Regions from separate parts of the Homo sapiens genome. Here region 2 is linked to region 1. The links come from fine-mapping of genetic effects on gene expression. Tissue or cell type: whole blood. Region 1 holds a variant in brackets; the other region holds the start of a gene. All regions are shown on one strand. Distances are from middle to middle.

Region 1 (8,109 bases):
TCTCTCTACACTATCTTTCTCTTACATACTTAGTACATATCCTTATTTTTTGCTATATCTTTCAGAAATAAGTTGCAGAGATTATGACTCCTCACCTTTAAATACTGCAGTATGTATCTCCTAGGAAGGGCTATACTATTCACAATGCAGCCTCTTTTAATTTTGATTGTGACAAGTCATATGGTGCTCACCTGACTTGGTATTTTCATGATAGACAGCAAAAATAACTTCTGCAAACTCCAACAACTCTGCTAGGAAACAGGCCTCTCCACTACAGTGCTGAGTCACCAAGTTACATGTGAACTCAACGTGATGGGAGAACTCAGGGCAGAAAGAACAGGCCACAGGGTGGGTTCGGCGCTGTTCTCCCTGGGGCAGGAAGGAGAGATGAGTGGTGACAGAGGCATTGACCCCGACTGTGGCACTAAACTGTAGAGCGGGTTCCCGTTCAGCCAAAGCCCTGTAGAGGAGAAGGGTGGAAATGAGAAGATACCATGGTAACATTAGAAATCAGCTTGATTTTCTAGAAAATAACTTCATTACTTCTATGAGACCACCAAGAATAAAACCAACTATATGCTTTCTATCTAGGCTTTTGGCAGTGCCACAATGGGCTTTCTTAGTAATCTAGATATCATGGCATATGTATATGGGAGTGGAGGGGATAACATCTGCCCATCAGAGTGACTCTGAGGATGACCCACTGTCCTGTCAATGCTCTTAAGTCAAGGACCACAGGAACCAACTCTAGTTGAACAAGCTGGGTTTACTGCTCATTGCAATTAAGGAAAATATACACCATGGGGAACCATAGTACATCTCAGTGAGAAGTATCAGAAAGGGCTTATCAGCATTGGACTTGTGTTAGCTGACTTGAGTGAGGGCTTAAAGGAGCAGGGCTTTGCTCTGGATTGATTTTCTTAAAGAATCTTATCTAGACGGAGGGAATACTAGAGTAAAGCTAAAGCTATAACTGGTGAAGCAGCAGCTGTCACTCATTTTAGCCAGACAGGAGGATGTTGGCTGTTTCTATGGTTTGCATAAGTGACCTCGTTTTGGTCTGTGCTTAGACATGATGATGGAGCTGTCTTGTTTTTGTCTCACTTCATCATAGTCATACAGTGATCTTGTCTGATGCTGATGTTCTGTAAGATTACTTATGGTCAACAAGAAAACACCAAAGCCTACCTATGAATTTTGGCCCAATTCCCAGAAGTCTGGGGCTGCTTTTATCTTTCTCAGCACAGATGTTCCATGATGTATAAATGGAATCTACACGCCTTTAACGACACTCATAAAGAGTAGTCAAGTCATTTGGGTGTAGCTACAGTATGGGACAAACCCCCTTTCCCTAAACTCCCCAAGGCGATAGAGTTGACATCTAGGCAAAGAAATCACCTATTTTTGAAGCATTTCTTGATATCCCTAAAGTAGACTTCTGGGTTCCTTCCTGTTAAAACCTTACTGTACTTCATAGAGAGTAGTAATTTGGAGTTATACAGATCTGGGTTTGAATGCTGGCTCCACCATTTACTTACCATGTGACTCTGGATAAGTTATTCAACCTCCTTTAAGTCTCAGTTTCCTCTTCACTAAGATGAGGTTAACATAAGATAGTATATAAATACTAAAGATGTATATTATATATTTGGATGCTTACTGCAATTTCATTTCTAAGAAAAAAAGAAAAACTTTTTCCTTTTCATTATCGTTAATGATCATTAATAGATGATTTATCATTAACAGAAGATTAATGTGCATCCATACAATAGTATACCATGAAGTATATATTATGCCTAGGAAAAATGGGGTGAAAATAAATTGAATGCTAGCAGTAGCTTAAAAAATGAGGATAGGCTGGGTGCGGTGGCTCGCGCCTGTAATCCCAGCACTTTGGGAGGCTGAGGTGGACGGATCACCTGAGGTCAAGAGTTTGAGACCAGCCTGCCCAACATGACGAAACCCCATCTCTACTAAAAATACAAAAACTTAGCCGGGCGTGGTGGCGGGCACCTGTAATCCCAGCTACTCAGAGGCTGAGTCAGGAGAATCGCTTGAACCCAGGAGGCGGAGGTTGCAGTGAGCTGAGATCGCACCAGTGCACTCTAGCCAGGGCGACAAGAGTGAAACTCCATCTCGAAAAAAAAAAAATGAGGATAAAATACTCATAGGGTGTTGTAAAGATAACATTAGATAATATATACAAAAGAAAGAACTTGCATATGGACAGTGAAGGACTCTTAATAGGGAACTTTCAGAGATGGCAGTGAGATGGCAGAAAGGCTTGGGCCCCAAGCTGGTTTGAATTCACTCATTCAGTCGTTATTTGCTGGGTATCTGCTCTGTGTGTCATGCCTTGGGCTCAGCTGGATATATAGTAGTGAAGTAGCCTCAATTCCTTAGCTTCACGGCATTTAAAGACTACTGGCTATGTCCAAGAAAGGTTCTATTCACTCTGAGTTAAAGATCAGGTGAGTTAGAAGAAGCAAGTCAGTAAGAAGTGCCTACTTTACATAGGCACCAACAATGTATTTTCAGGAAGACCACTGGCAGGTAAGATGGAGGCTGGTGTTTCTTGATGAGAGAAGACTAATTTACAGCACCTGCTATCTAGATGCCAGCGTAAGGATTCAAGAGGGGTAAGTTTAGAACATCAAGAATTCTTTTCAGTAAGAGGCAATGCAAAATTTACTTCTCTGATTTTACTGGCAAATAGAGGTCACAATTATCTATACAAGTGGAAGTAATCATAAAAATCTGTATATTTGTACAATAGTTTGTAGTTTATAAAATGACTTCATATTTGTTAATTTTTACACTGATCCCTACAAAATCAGGGTAGGTATTTAAAATTTCCATTTCAGATGAAGAAACCGAAGCTCATGGAAGTAAAGAAATCAGCCCCAAATCATACACAGCTAGTAGGAGATGGGGGTGAGACTAGAAGCTATAGTGTCTGATTTCTAGAACAGTTCTGTGTCCATTATACCATGCATTGTCTCACATCCTGTGAACCTCTCCCAACCTACCAGAAGAGTGTTGTGTCAGAACTGGCCTGGCTTCTTGTTCTCCCTCCTTGAATATATGACACAGACCAAATGGGAGATTTAGAACAAACTGCCTGTCATCCAATCTGACTTTCCTCATGAGTCCTCAGACAGAGCAACTACTGAGTTTCCGACTTGTTATCTGCCCTCTCTGAGATCTACTGAGTATCTAAATTCTGAGTCCTTCTCTGCCAATTAAATGCTAGTTAATTTAATGCCATATTGAAGAATTCTGATGTTGGCTGGATCTGAGACTGAGGAGGTACTCCAAAAACACAAGTTTCATGCCTCCCTGCCTTTGCACATGTTCTTCTCTTTCACCAAAATAATTTTCACCCCTTTTGGGTATCTTGATAACTACTATTCTTCTTTTAAGACTCAGATTTATTTTGAAGGGGCTTGAATGCCAAGCTAAGGAAGTTGGACCTTATTATATGGACCAATGATCCCTAAAGAAGGCTGTATACAACTTAGGAGGTTCATAGGATAAACTATATTGGTTATCTCATATATTAAAGTTTTTCTATTCCATGGTATATCTTAGAATATATTTTGTATATGAGTATAGCAGTACATGAAGATGATTTATACATGAGTAAATATGTACATATTTAAAGGGTATGCTACCTTTTTTATTAATAGGAATGCATAATTAAAATTATGAGATCACTGCTATCAACAATGGGAAATCATCAAGTTTTAATGTAAGGAAGTGGTATGATTATAAAACTGCTTTACTGTCTCAGTGATGGGATCTGTACCCTAAACCTTAGCATCATGCGACATACCCATATAACAAATCTGCACATGTACCCCTGTATCTAAAATAAAAAGTTGAAATTAAACAAACAAACAAACGAAACACACCAAAAACCAAAACAAACATAAAAACAAAACCCAAAACCAACCTGTCTTGACATCACCTTCACTAACACTAAGATGTTCTTGGGCAGTAACTGAAAGAGTCTACGTGGAGAATTTAGTGAGGAACAATATTAACTACACTGAGTATCTTAGCTCTTCAGCATCAGATCTCACACAATAATGCAATTTCTTATTTGGAGACCATAAAGTTATAGGTGAACAGTTTGACCCTCAGCTACAACAGGGAAAAAGTTAGGGAGCACTTGTCTGTTTCTTTGTTCAAAGGGTGTCAGTCTGAAGCAGGAGCCTGATCTAGTTCTCTTTCTTACTGGGTGCCTGTTATATGCTAGAACTATGCTAGGAGGTTAGAAGGATGGAGAGGAGCTCAGGCAGTATCTCTGACTAGAGGAACTCACAGCCTAGTGGGAGAAAAATGCATGTATGCCAATAATTGAAACAGAATATGTGCTACAACCAAGGTGTTAACAAAGGAAAAACCACCAACTCTGCCTACACGTACAAAGAAATAAAGAGAGACTGTAAAGATGTTGCAAAGTCTTGAAGGAAAATAGGAGTTTGTTAAGTAGACAAAAGGAAGAAGAATATTCAAGGCAGAGAGAAGTATGAGTGAAGACCTGAAGGAGGTAAGGGAAAGGGCTGTGCTGTTTTTCTAGAGAAATAGTGTTCCAGGCAGAGAAAACAGCAAGACAAAGGCCTTGAGAGGAAAATATGCTTGGTGTGTTCAGAAGCAACATGGGGGTTGTGGCTGGAGTGGAGTAAGCAGAGGGCAGACTAGCAGGAGATGAGATCACAAAGATAGATGGGGGGTGGGGCACGTGGTTTAGATCATATGGGGTCTCATAGCCATTTTAAGGGCTCTGGTTTTTACTCTGAATAAGATCAAACATAGGCCAGGTGCACTGGCTCACGCCTGTAATCCCAGCACTTTGGGAGGCTGAGGCGGGTGGATCACTTGAGGTCAGGAGTTC[G/C]AGATCAGCCTGACCAACACAGTAATGAGGATCCCGCCACTGCACTCTAGCCTGGGCGACAAAGCTAGACTTAAGTGTTCATAGGTTCACTGGCTACTATGTTGAGAACAGACTAAAGGGGTGCAAGCTGGAAAAATAGGAGGTAGTACTCAGAGACTGAAAGGAATGAAGTGAGATTACACAGGAGTTGCAGTGATTGGGTATGGCATGGTTTGATGGTGTAGGGTATGGCCATAAGACTAAGTTGTTAAGAAAGGCACAGGATAAAATTGTTGGGCAAGGTCAAGGAGGTAAGTTGCTAACAGTTAAAATAGCAACGTTTGCAAGTGATTTACTCATATTCTGAAATGCTTTATTAACAGAAAAAGAGGAGTTGTGGTTAGTGAACTGGAAATTATACCTAAGAAAGTTTTGCATATCTGAGCATTATTTTACAATGATTGCAGTGTAAAAGGCTTGAGAATTGCTTGTCTCAGGTGGACTTACTTGGCTGCTGCTTGCAGACCACAGGCTCTGATAATCTGGACTGAGATGGAAACAGTTCGGGCAGCAAGAACTCCCTCTGCTGTTCTTGGACTACGCCTGTACCTTAGGCCCACATCCAGTAAACCTGAAGAATGAGGACACAAGGAAAGAAGGTTGGTCAGAAGAATCTCTGTTCCACCAAACCACAAAGTTTTGGTCAGGAAGGATGGAAGAGGATTAACACTACAACGAACAATAAGGGCAATGAGAGAATCTGTCCTTGTCATAATCACATTGTTATTCTTTAAGGTTAATAAAGGTTTAACAGGTTACTAATTTACTTTACATTCAAGAAATTATGGTTCAGAGATTTAATTCCTTGCCAAGATTACACAACTACTGAAGGCAGAACTTAACTCCAGATTTCTTTTTACCCCCAATTATGTTTATAGAATTGAGATGGGCTCTAGCCATTTTCTTTTTAAACTTTCAAACGGTTTCCACACCTCACATACTTCTATCACCCTCCTACCATCACCACCTGAAATATCCTTCTCATGCTACCTTTTTATAAAACCTCTATCATCCTACTGTCACATTTCAGGGACAGCTTTATGGAATAACAGAATAAGCTGATCAGGGAGGGTCAGGAGAAACAACTCAATCTTAATTATGGTGACATAAAACCTATTGTTTTGGCAGATACTCTTTAGCAAGCATGTACAGCAACTTGATATAGGAGGCTAAACTTCGTTATCTGATGATAAATTTAGAGGGTACACCATCCTGCTGGAAGCATTAGGATGTAATATCATTCAAATCTCCAAATTCGAATTAATCCTCTCCTAACTTTAAACCCTAGCCTTCTCCTCCCTTACAGTGAATTCCTGGTTCATGCTATCTTCTACCAATCCCCTATCTGCTCATGTTGGCTTGGAATAACAATTCTCTGAGTGTACCATATAATGCTTAGAATTTATGGCATGAGGGCTTATAAAATGCTTGCTGAAGTTAAAGGTGAAATGAGACAAGCAACATTTACATAGACTCCATGGAGCTATGAGTTTTCTAGAATTGTATACAAAATTGGCAGTGTATATTCTATACTCATTTTTTCCAAGACAAGGTGTCTTACAGTTTTCATCAGATCCTCAAAAGGGCAAATCCCTCAAAATGTGGAGAATCACTAATTTAGAGAGAAAAGGGATGTTTATGTATACTGTATATTTTATATATATATATGTGTGTGTGTGTGTATATATATATATATTTTTTTTTTGAGACGAGTTTCGCTTTTGTTGCCCAGGCTGGAGTACAATGGCTTGATCTTGGCTCACTGCAACCTCTGCCTCCTGGGTTCAAGCAATTCTTCTGCCTCAGCCTCCCAAGTAGCTGGGATTACAAGCATGGGCCACCATGCCTGGCTAATTTTTTTGTATTTTTGGTAGAGACGGGGTTTCTCCATGTTGGTCAGGCTGGTCTCGAACTCCTGACCTCAGGTGATCCACCCGCCTTGGCTTCCCAAAGTGCTGGGATTAGAGGTGTGAACCACCGCACCCGGCTATTTTATATATTTTTATGTATACTGATTTTGAAAGAAAAAGACAAACTTGTTTTCAATTACCTGATGACTGGTTCCTCAATTCTTTCCTGTTCTCAATCCTGGGGGTTAAAGGGAGATTAAAGGTCTGTATTCCCACATCCTCACGATGCTGGGTGGTTACCATAGCACAGATCCTTGATAATGGCAAGGTTCCTTTGGCGACCTTCTGGTCTCTCACATTAGGATAATAGTATCTGTAAACCACAAAAGCACACGTTGTCAGAAGAATTAGGTGATAAATGATTCAGTCTGCCCCACAGATCAGCCTTCACTACCTGGTTATCTTTGGTGCCTGATTGTTCTGTGTTGGTAGTACGCAGCTATGGTGTCTGGCTAAATTTACCACTCATTATGTGGAGGAGGAACTCCATAAATTATACCGAGTTCAGGACAAAGCCTAGCTTCCCTCAAGTTTTCTGTGCGGTAACTGTACATGCCTTGAACCTGTCGGGGGTGGCCACTCCTGAAAGCTTCCATCTTGCAGCAGCAAAAGTGGTTCAAAGTGGAGTAGGCCCAATATCTTTCATGGCTTACTCTCATCTTCATGCTGAAGCCCCTCTAATTTACCAGGGTAATGAGGATCTGTCAGTACCTACTCTATTTCCTTCTTATGTCAAAACAATCCATTCTTAGATTGCAAAGTTGTAACTCAAACCTAGGTGGTTTTAAAAATCTTTTTTGTACTTGACTGACAATTAATTGTATTTAGGAAAGTGTTCTCGCATGTGGATGGTACTCATCCCTAGTTCTGTTCCTGATGCTGTTTCCTTTCCTCTTATATTTATACTCTCTTAAGCACTTTAGTTGGTTTGTCGGTGGTGCAGATGTAAAGGGGTGGGTTGAACATCCGTATTTATGCCAGTATTTTCCTGGAAATCTTCCAATGTCTGTAACATTGAGTGGATTTATATTTTATAATATAAATCAAATATAATAATTTATATATTTGTTATATATAAATTATATTATTAAATTATATTTATAAAATAAATATAAATGTTCCTCTGGTGGTGGGAAGAACAGGTTACAAGAAATGAGTTTATAAGTAGGAGGCCAGTTAGGAGGCTACCACAGTCATTTAGGCAAGATATGAAAAGGGCCTGAACTAAATAAGGCAGTAAGGGACGCACAAAAAAGGTGA
Region 2 (8,109 bases), 82 kb after region 1:
GTTGATGTTTCAAAAATTTTTTCTCGAGAGAATGTAAGTTACTCAAGGACAAGTTAATCTTAACTCACCCCTGGCTCTCCAATATTCTGAGCCCAACCATGTTTACATGATAAATGCTCGAATTTTATTGACTTGAACTGAATTGACTTGATAAATAACCCCATCATCCAAAATGTATTTATGTGAAAGCTTGACCTGAATAAAGAAGTAACATAGTACACTCAGAATACTTTTCTTGTACAAAAATGAAGACATCTTGGCTTCTGGTTCCCTACAGAGGGATGCTTTCCATTTCTGAACATCTGTAATACTAACTCACTAAACCATTCATTTAGCATTTAGTATGTATTATCTTGTACTATTGGTAAATTTTACATCTATATCCTCTTTCCTTGAGTATAATGTAAACCCCAGAGTTGAGACTACAGTTATTACCTAAAAAAGCATGGTGTAGTGAAAAGAGCATGAGTTTTGGTGACAGACAGAAGTGGGTTCAAATCCTAATTCAGCCATTTATCAACTTTGTGACCTTAGAAAGTATTCATTTCATCTCTCCAACTTGTTTAATTGTCTATAAAACAGAGAAAATACCTATCTTTCAGGGTTATTGTAAGGATTAGAAGTAATACATTTCAAAACTGCTGGCACACAGTAACACTCAATAAATTTACAAAGAAAAATGTCTACTATAAAAACTCTTTGACTCTTCAATAATTAAGAATGCCCATATATGCTAGGTACACAACAACACTTATTGCTGACAATATAACCACATGCTTTGTATTACGTCTGCAGGTGCAATGATAAAACAATAACATACCTGTTAGATAAGAGGTAAACTGTTTTGGACCACAACGAATAGCGTAACGTGTAGTTGTTCTCACAGCTTTTGGTTCAGTCTGCAATGCATCCCTGGGACAAAAGAGGGTTCCATCTGATGTTTCTCCCCACCATCTCACTCGGACAAGTACACAAGTGGGAGGCTTTGCAATCTTCCATATGACTCTATTAACAGTAAGTTTTAGAAAACAGCGTAGCTGGCCTTCAACCAGAGGTGGCAGGCTTGTAGATGGAGAAATGTCACTTAAACCTGTAGAGGAATCCAAGAAAACTGAGTCAAAATTTAGACTAAATATAGAAAACATATAATATGCTTTTTGAATGAAAACAAACAGAACACTTTAGTCTTAAGTTCAGCAATTTATCACCACTTAGAAAGAAGGTTTATCCTACCCATTATTCTAATACATGAGAAGTAACTATCAAATCAGACCACCGAATAATCTATCTGGTCATGTAAGCCACTCTGATAACTAATTAGTATTTAAGGTTTGATTTGATTTACTCTAAGTTAAGAACATACCAACAAAGACACACTAATATAAACTTTTCTTTAGTTGAGTTACTATTTGAAAAATACAAATATCAGAAGTAGTTGACATTTTTCTAAGTATGGTTGAAATTTTTCTAAGTACAGTTGTTTTAATTATTGCAACATCTATGGTTTTTAAGATATGTAATCTTTATCTAACTCTCTTTTAAAAAAATCACTAACGATAAAACAGCAACAACTCCCTTCACTCACAAACGATTTAGACTATATCATACAACTCAGCATTTCAATGAAGAACGTCTTAAATTGTAACTTTTCTTTCCTGCCAAGATCACACAGTCAGTGAGGACACAGACTATCTAATCTTCAGATTCTGCCACTATTTTTAACACAGTGCTGGGTTCATATATTTATTGGCTTTAGTATTTATTGGGTTTCATAAAGACATTAAAGTGTAAACAAAGCAATTAATCATGACTTTCTAAAAAATTTTCCTTTAATGACCCTGATTGTCTTTCATTCATAGTACCTTTTCGGGAAAACTTAAAGGAGATTTAAGAAACCATTCCTATATTATTTATACCTTTTTTTTCCTTTGACTTTTCTTTGAGGAGTGGTTATGCCTCAAAGAAGAAAATATATGGAATGTATCAGATCAGGACTAATTATTTGGACTTCTAATGCAAACACCGCCTCTGCCCTCTATAGTGGAGAAAAGACCCACCATAATCCTTATGGATAGTTTCAACATAAAAATTATACACAGTTGTGTATACATTTCTACATATGGAAATGGTATAGCAAAAAGTGTATTCTGTTCTATGCTATGTTATATTATTTCTACTTTGACTTTCCGATTATCAACCAAACATGCTTAACTGTTTTGACACAGGGAGCACTAGTATGCTTCAGTCTCAGATCCTCCTATCTTTCCTGGCAGGAAAGTCAGTATCTCAAAACTGCCTTAGTAATCTTTAAACAGCTTGGATAAGAGTAATTCCCAGATTGTAGCTTCAGTCCTCAACCCAATGGCCTAATGTCCTATCACTGTTCCCAATACTTCTTTTCTCGCTAAACTGCCTACAATGCAAAAAGGCAGGGTCACCCACTGTCCTTTTTCCCTTCGAGGCAGTCTTGTAGAGATTCAATGTCAAGTTTCCTGATCTGCCCTGGGTTCCTAGGTTGACTGTTCTCACTGCAGCTAACATCCCCTACTCGGTGAGCTTGTGTCTCCTTGAGCTGCTAACCTGATGAGGACTCTCTGCTGCACACTCTTTCATGATCTCAGGTCCTTCAGGAGATCGTCATGCCCTTACCCCCACTCCAATCCTATCACACCTGTCATTCCCCACTCTTCCCGGCTCTATACTCTACAATTATTTTTCCCAACTCCTGCTCATAGTCAGCCCTTCATACTTCATTCATTCAACTAACATTTACCGAGTCCTGCTTTGTACTAATCCTTGGTCATTCAGTAATGTATAAAACGTGATTCTTGCCCACAATCACACAACAAATGATATAATCCCTTTGCCAATTTATGTTTCTTCCTGTCCCTGTGGACCTCGAAAGCTACACACACACATACATTTCACTTCGTTATCAAAACCAATCCCATCATTGTTTGTTCTTCTCCTCTACAGTCATCCTACCGGTAACCTTCATCTCATTAATCGCCTGTCTGTGGCCCCTACCCCAGCCCCTAATTCCTTTCTATTCTCTGGAGGGCCAATTGCCCTTCCTTTTAACCTTCTGGTTCCCTGGCTACTTCCTTCTTACGTCCCTTTTCTTGTTTATCCAGCGGGGGTGCGGGTCTCCCTAAAATTCCTTACACCCTGCTCTCCTATTACGCTTTCCTCAATCTTTGATCGCTCAGGTTACCTCTTTTTTTGCGCCCACGGCTGCCCCCAGACCCTTGGCCTTTTCGTTGTTTCATGATGAGCCCGAGCTCTTCTTCACCAGCTCAACTCCGTCTCCAGCACCTAAGCAGTATCCTCCCGCCATCCCTCCCCACGGCGCCTGCGTTCCCCGGCAACCGGCGCCGCTGGGCAGCCTGGGAGGCAGGAAAAAGCGACTCTTCCTCTAACAGTCTCCGGAAAACGGTGCGAAGAGAAGGCGCCAAGACGCCTTCCCTCCAATACACTACAATACCCAGGACGCTTTGCTACAATACCTCTCCGGGGTTGGCTGGGGGGCGCCTCCAGCTGCGCAAGCGCATAGGGATGCGCCCTTTGTGGACTCCATTGCGCAGGGTGCATTGCCCTGAAGAGCGCTCCTCCTTCCGGTGAAAGTCGTCGGGTTCCCAGCCGGGAGTCTGCGGAGTTCTCATACTCTGTTACCCAGCTTCCTTTGTATGAGTGCTGTTGCGCACTTCCGGTGGAAGCGCTGAAGCGAGTGGGTGGAGTTTACGGAGCCGGTGGGCGGTAGGCGGTGCTACGGGTAGCTGGGTGCTGTCCAAAGGCGACAGGGCGTCGTTAGGGGAGCGAGTCGTGACCGGTTGGGCCACACTCAACGTGGGACGAAGCTTCGCCTACTGTTTGACTACGTGCGTGCAGCCTCCCCTCGATGTCGGCCCTCGAAAAGAGCATGCACCTCGGCCGCCTTCCCTCTCGCCCACCTCTACCCGGCAGCGGGGGCAGTCAGAGCGGAGCCAAGATGCGAATGGGGTACGTGACCCATACCCCTTCTCCCTATGGGCCAGGCCCCAGCCGTTGGAGAATGGTATCTCTGGGCGTTCATAGAGGCACGGGAAAGGAGTCTACTGATAGGAGAAAATGTTGGCGGCCTGGAGATATTTAGATGGAGTAGAAGGCAGATTGGGGTACTAGGGGAGGCGCCAAGTCAATAGAAATTGGAGGAAAAATAACGTTGTTGAAGGGAGAGGGGAATGAGGCAAAGGTTGGGGAAGCTGAGAGACTAACATAAGGGATCTGAGAATCACTTCCACAATAAAGGAGGCTTAGAAAAGGGAGTAGAACGGTGACAAAGGTGGAGGAGAATCGGCCAGGGAAGGTGGAGGGAAGTGGGGAATGACTGAGAGAAAAGTTGAGGGGAATTGGGCCAACAACTAAGGAAAGGTTTGGGAGGAGTAGATATTATCAGAGTTCTAATATCTGCACTGTGAGAACTAGATACTAGAAAAGCTGAGGGGGGTAGAAAACACTCGAGACAGGGCTGGAGAAGGAAAGAGGAGAACTAGGAAGCAGACGATTCTAGAGAATTCCCAGAGGTGTAAAGACAGATTCAGCGAATGAGAGGTGAGATTAGGTCTCTTAAGGGAGAATGAGAAAGTTTAGGGAGTAGGCCTAAGGTAAGGTGGAGAACATAGCCACGAAGATTGTTAAGGGTAGTAGGAATGTGCTGAGAAGCTGGACAGGATAAGGGAGAGAGAAGAAGGAGAGGACTGAAGAATTTACAGAGTGAGAAGCTGGACAGGATAAGGGAGAGAGAAGAAGGAGAGAACTGAAGAATTTACAGAGTGACCATAGGCTCTAAAGATTGAGAGATGACTATAAATACGGTTTGGTGAATGGAAGTGCTGCAGTTGTAAGGTCTGGGAAGCTTAGAGGAAGATTTGGGCAATCAGTTTTTGCTGGGCTAGTAGATCTGAGGGAAGCGACGTACTGGCCTAAGACTTTGAATTAGTGAAGCATTGGGAGTTCGAGAAATAGTTTGCTGGAAAGGAAGGAGAGCCATGTAGAAGAGATAGGTTTTGGAATTTTAGATCGTTAAATGGCTTGTGCCAGGTTAGGGGATACTTGGGCCGAGGAGAAAGAATGAGGTGAACATGGGAGAAGTAATTGCTGGAAAGTGGAGAGAATTGAATAGGCATTTGGTTTTGAGGGGATATTTGTAGTTTCAAACAGGATTCTGGGAATTAGTGACTGTAAAGAGAAAAGGAGTAGGAAAGATACTTAGGTATGAGGGCTCCAGAGTATATTTGGGATTCTAGAGATGAATTGGTAGATATTCTTTGAAAAAGGACTACAGAAGAGAAACCTTAGGTTCTGAAGAAGTAATATGTGTAAAAACTTATCAAAAAGGAGGCGAGAGTAGGAGATGCAGTACTGTGACAGTAAGTCCTAGGGATGAAAAGAAAGGAGAATCCTATAAAACAGTGGGGTAAAGGAATGGGAAAAATGGGTGGAAAAACCAGGGAAGGAAACTAAGAATTGAGTGGAGACCTGCTATGATACGCAGTAGAAAAATGAGAAAACTTTAGCAGGAGGAGATAGAGAGATAGACGCACAATAGAGGTAGAAGGCTACATAGAAGGTAAAGTGAAGATTGTTTTGGCTTTGGAAGACAGAAAAGTTGGACTATAACATGAATAAAGAGAATTTGGAAACTGACCCATAACATTATTTGGGAAAACTAACCTGGAGTTTAATATTAATGTAACATTAATTGTTGTTAAATATCTTAGTTGCTGCCTTTCTTAAAATAAATTTGATTTTTCAGTATACCAGCACCCTTCTATACAAATACATAAGAAAATCAGATTTTTAATAATTATACATTCCTTAGATAAGCTTAATTAGAGCTCAGCTTCTCATCTTGGAGAAACAAGTTCTCTGAAGATTGAAGAACTGAATGAAGATACTGAGAGAAAAAAAAAGGAAAATCTGCTGATTAGAAGATTGTATAATTGTTAGTAATTTATCGTTTTTATTTTTTATTACTTTTCATTTTATTTTTTTTTAGAGACAGAGTCTCACTCTGTTGCCCAGGCTAGAGTGCAGTGGCACAATCTCGGCTCACTGCAACTTCCACCTCCCGGGCTCAAGTGATTCTTGTGCCTCAGCCTCCCAAGTAGCTGGGATTACAGGCATGCACCACCACGCCCGGCTAATTTTTGTATTTTTAGTAGAGAGGGGATTTCGCCATGTTGGCCAGGCTGGTCTTAAACTCCTGGCCTTAAGTGATCTGCCCCACTTGGCTTCCCAAAGTACTGGGATTATAGGAGTGAGCTACTGTGCCTGGACAACTTACCTTTTTAAAAAGATGCTTTGGTCTTCTTGGTTTAGGTTAACTGCTTATCCTGGAAAAGAAAGTTCTTTAGAAAGGCCTTTCTTTATGATAGTATTGTGAAGAGAAGAGCATATATTGGCGAATATTTGTGTGGTCCTCAAATGGCTTATTTTCCCGTATCTTTCTTTTCTACTTTATTGGTATATAAGCAGGCTTCATCTAAGTCTCATGGTAGTAATAATATAGATTCTCTTTCTCCTTAGAATCATAAAGCTGAGAGAAAGCATAGACATGGTCTCATTTCACCACTTCATGTAGTTGAGGAACCCAATATTCAGAGAGTTCTGTATTCTATAAGGGAATGTATTAATAAATGAGGGAACTGAGACTCAGATATTCCTAAGGTACCCTAGAAGCTTAGCGGTAGGGCCGTTAAGGACTAGGACTTGGGTCTCTTGACTGTGAGACCCATTGTGTATTTTGGAGTCATAATTGTCATCTGGGGATACTTATTTTGAGTTGTGTATCTTACTCATTTGCATATAATCTAGGATTCAGTCTTTTTCTTCAGTCGTAATTTATGAAGTCTCACACCAATTTCAAAGCATTCTTTATGTCTCCTTATGCTTACTTGCTTTTTTCTTAACTTCCATTCTTCCACTCTATCTATGTTACTCACAAGTTAGTCCTGTTCTCTTGATAGTCTCTTGTGTGGCTTACTCTTAACTATTTTTCATGATCTCTTGCCTTCAATTTCACTAAACATTATTTAGGCATGTTTGCATATTCAGGGTGCATATTCTGAGTTGGTGATTTTTCATGAGTTTCCATAATTCAGTTTTTCAGATTAGATTTAGTAATTCCAAAGTATTGTTGGATAATTTAATAATAGCAATTTTTAAAGTAAGTACTGTGTGCCAGACATTGTAATGGTAACTTTATGTTATTTAATGTGTCCACAGACCTGCATGGTGAATATTTTCCTGCATTGTGGGTAAAGACATTCAGACCCAGAGATTAAAAGTAACCCAACTAGTAGGTAGCAGAGCTAGGATTCAATCTAAGTTTAGTCTCTAGAATCCATTCACTTTTCAGTACACTAATATTTTCTCTTGGGTAAGGCCTGAAATCCTGGTGTCACTCTTCCTTTTAATAGATGCCAATGGATGTTGCCAAAAACAGTGGTTTTGAACTTCTTTATTAAAGCTTTTAGAGCTACTCTGACTAAAGTAGATTTGAGATCCCTATTTGCTTTGCACCCCTGGTGTGCTTGAGAGAAGTATCTTTTGAAAGTCACTGCTTTCGTATATACTATTACTATTAGAGGAACTATAAAATATTAAAGCCATTCATTATTCAACGTGTTTTTGGTTTATCAGTAGTTGTACTTTTTGGCCAGGTGTGGTGGCTCATGCCTGTAATCTCAGCACTTTGGGAGGCCGAGGCGGGTGGATCACCTGAGGTCGGGAGTTCAAGACCAGCCTGACCAACATAGAAAAACACCGTCTCTCCTAAAAATACAAAATTAGCTGGCGTGGTGGCACATGCCTGTAATCCCAGCTACTCAGGAGGCTGAGGCAGGAGAATCACTTGAACCTGGGAGGCGGAGGTTGTGGTGAGCCGAGATCGCGCCATTGCACTCCAGCCAGGGCAACAAGAGCGAAACTCCATCTCAAAAAAAAAAAAGTTCTACTTTTCTATTATTATCTCTTAAATTCCTTTTTTTTTCTTTTGCAAGAGATAGAGTCTTGCTGTGTTGCCCAGGCTGAAGTACAGTGGCTTTTCACAGGCATAATCTTGGTGCA

The links. PIP is the estimated chance that this variant, and not a neighbour inherited with it, causes the effect.
Region 2: C2CD3 starts here. The variant in region 1 is fine-mapped to the expression of C2CD3 in whole blood (TOPMed, PIP above 0.99).

The regions. Positions count from the first base shown.
Region 1 is chr11:74,085,427-74,093,535 of GRCh38, forward strand. C2CD3 (C2 domain containing 3 centriole elongation regulator) reads right to left here. Exons shown (of 33, transcript NM_001286577.2): 19 at 6,990-7,162; 20 at 5,387-5,510; 21 at 192-460. Among named protein-coding and RNA genes, the nearest start is that of UCP3, 80 kb to the left of the region's middle. The variant G/C (reference allele first, on the strand shown) is at 4,901.
Region 2 is chr11:74,167,524-74,175,632 of GRCh38, forward strand. C2CD3 (C2 domain containing 3 centriole elongation regulator) reads right to left here and starts at 3,479. Exons shown (of 33, transcript NM_001286577.2): 1 at 3,215-3,479; 2 at 821-1,090. The coding sequence starts at 3,269. PPME1 (protein phosphatase methylesterase 1) reads left to right here and starts at 3,766. Exons shown (of 14, transcript NM_016147.3): 1 at 3,766-3,999. The coding sequence starts at 3,899. RefSeq lists enhancers at 2,714-3,637, 3,411-3,860, 3,638-4,560.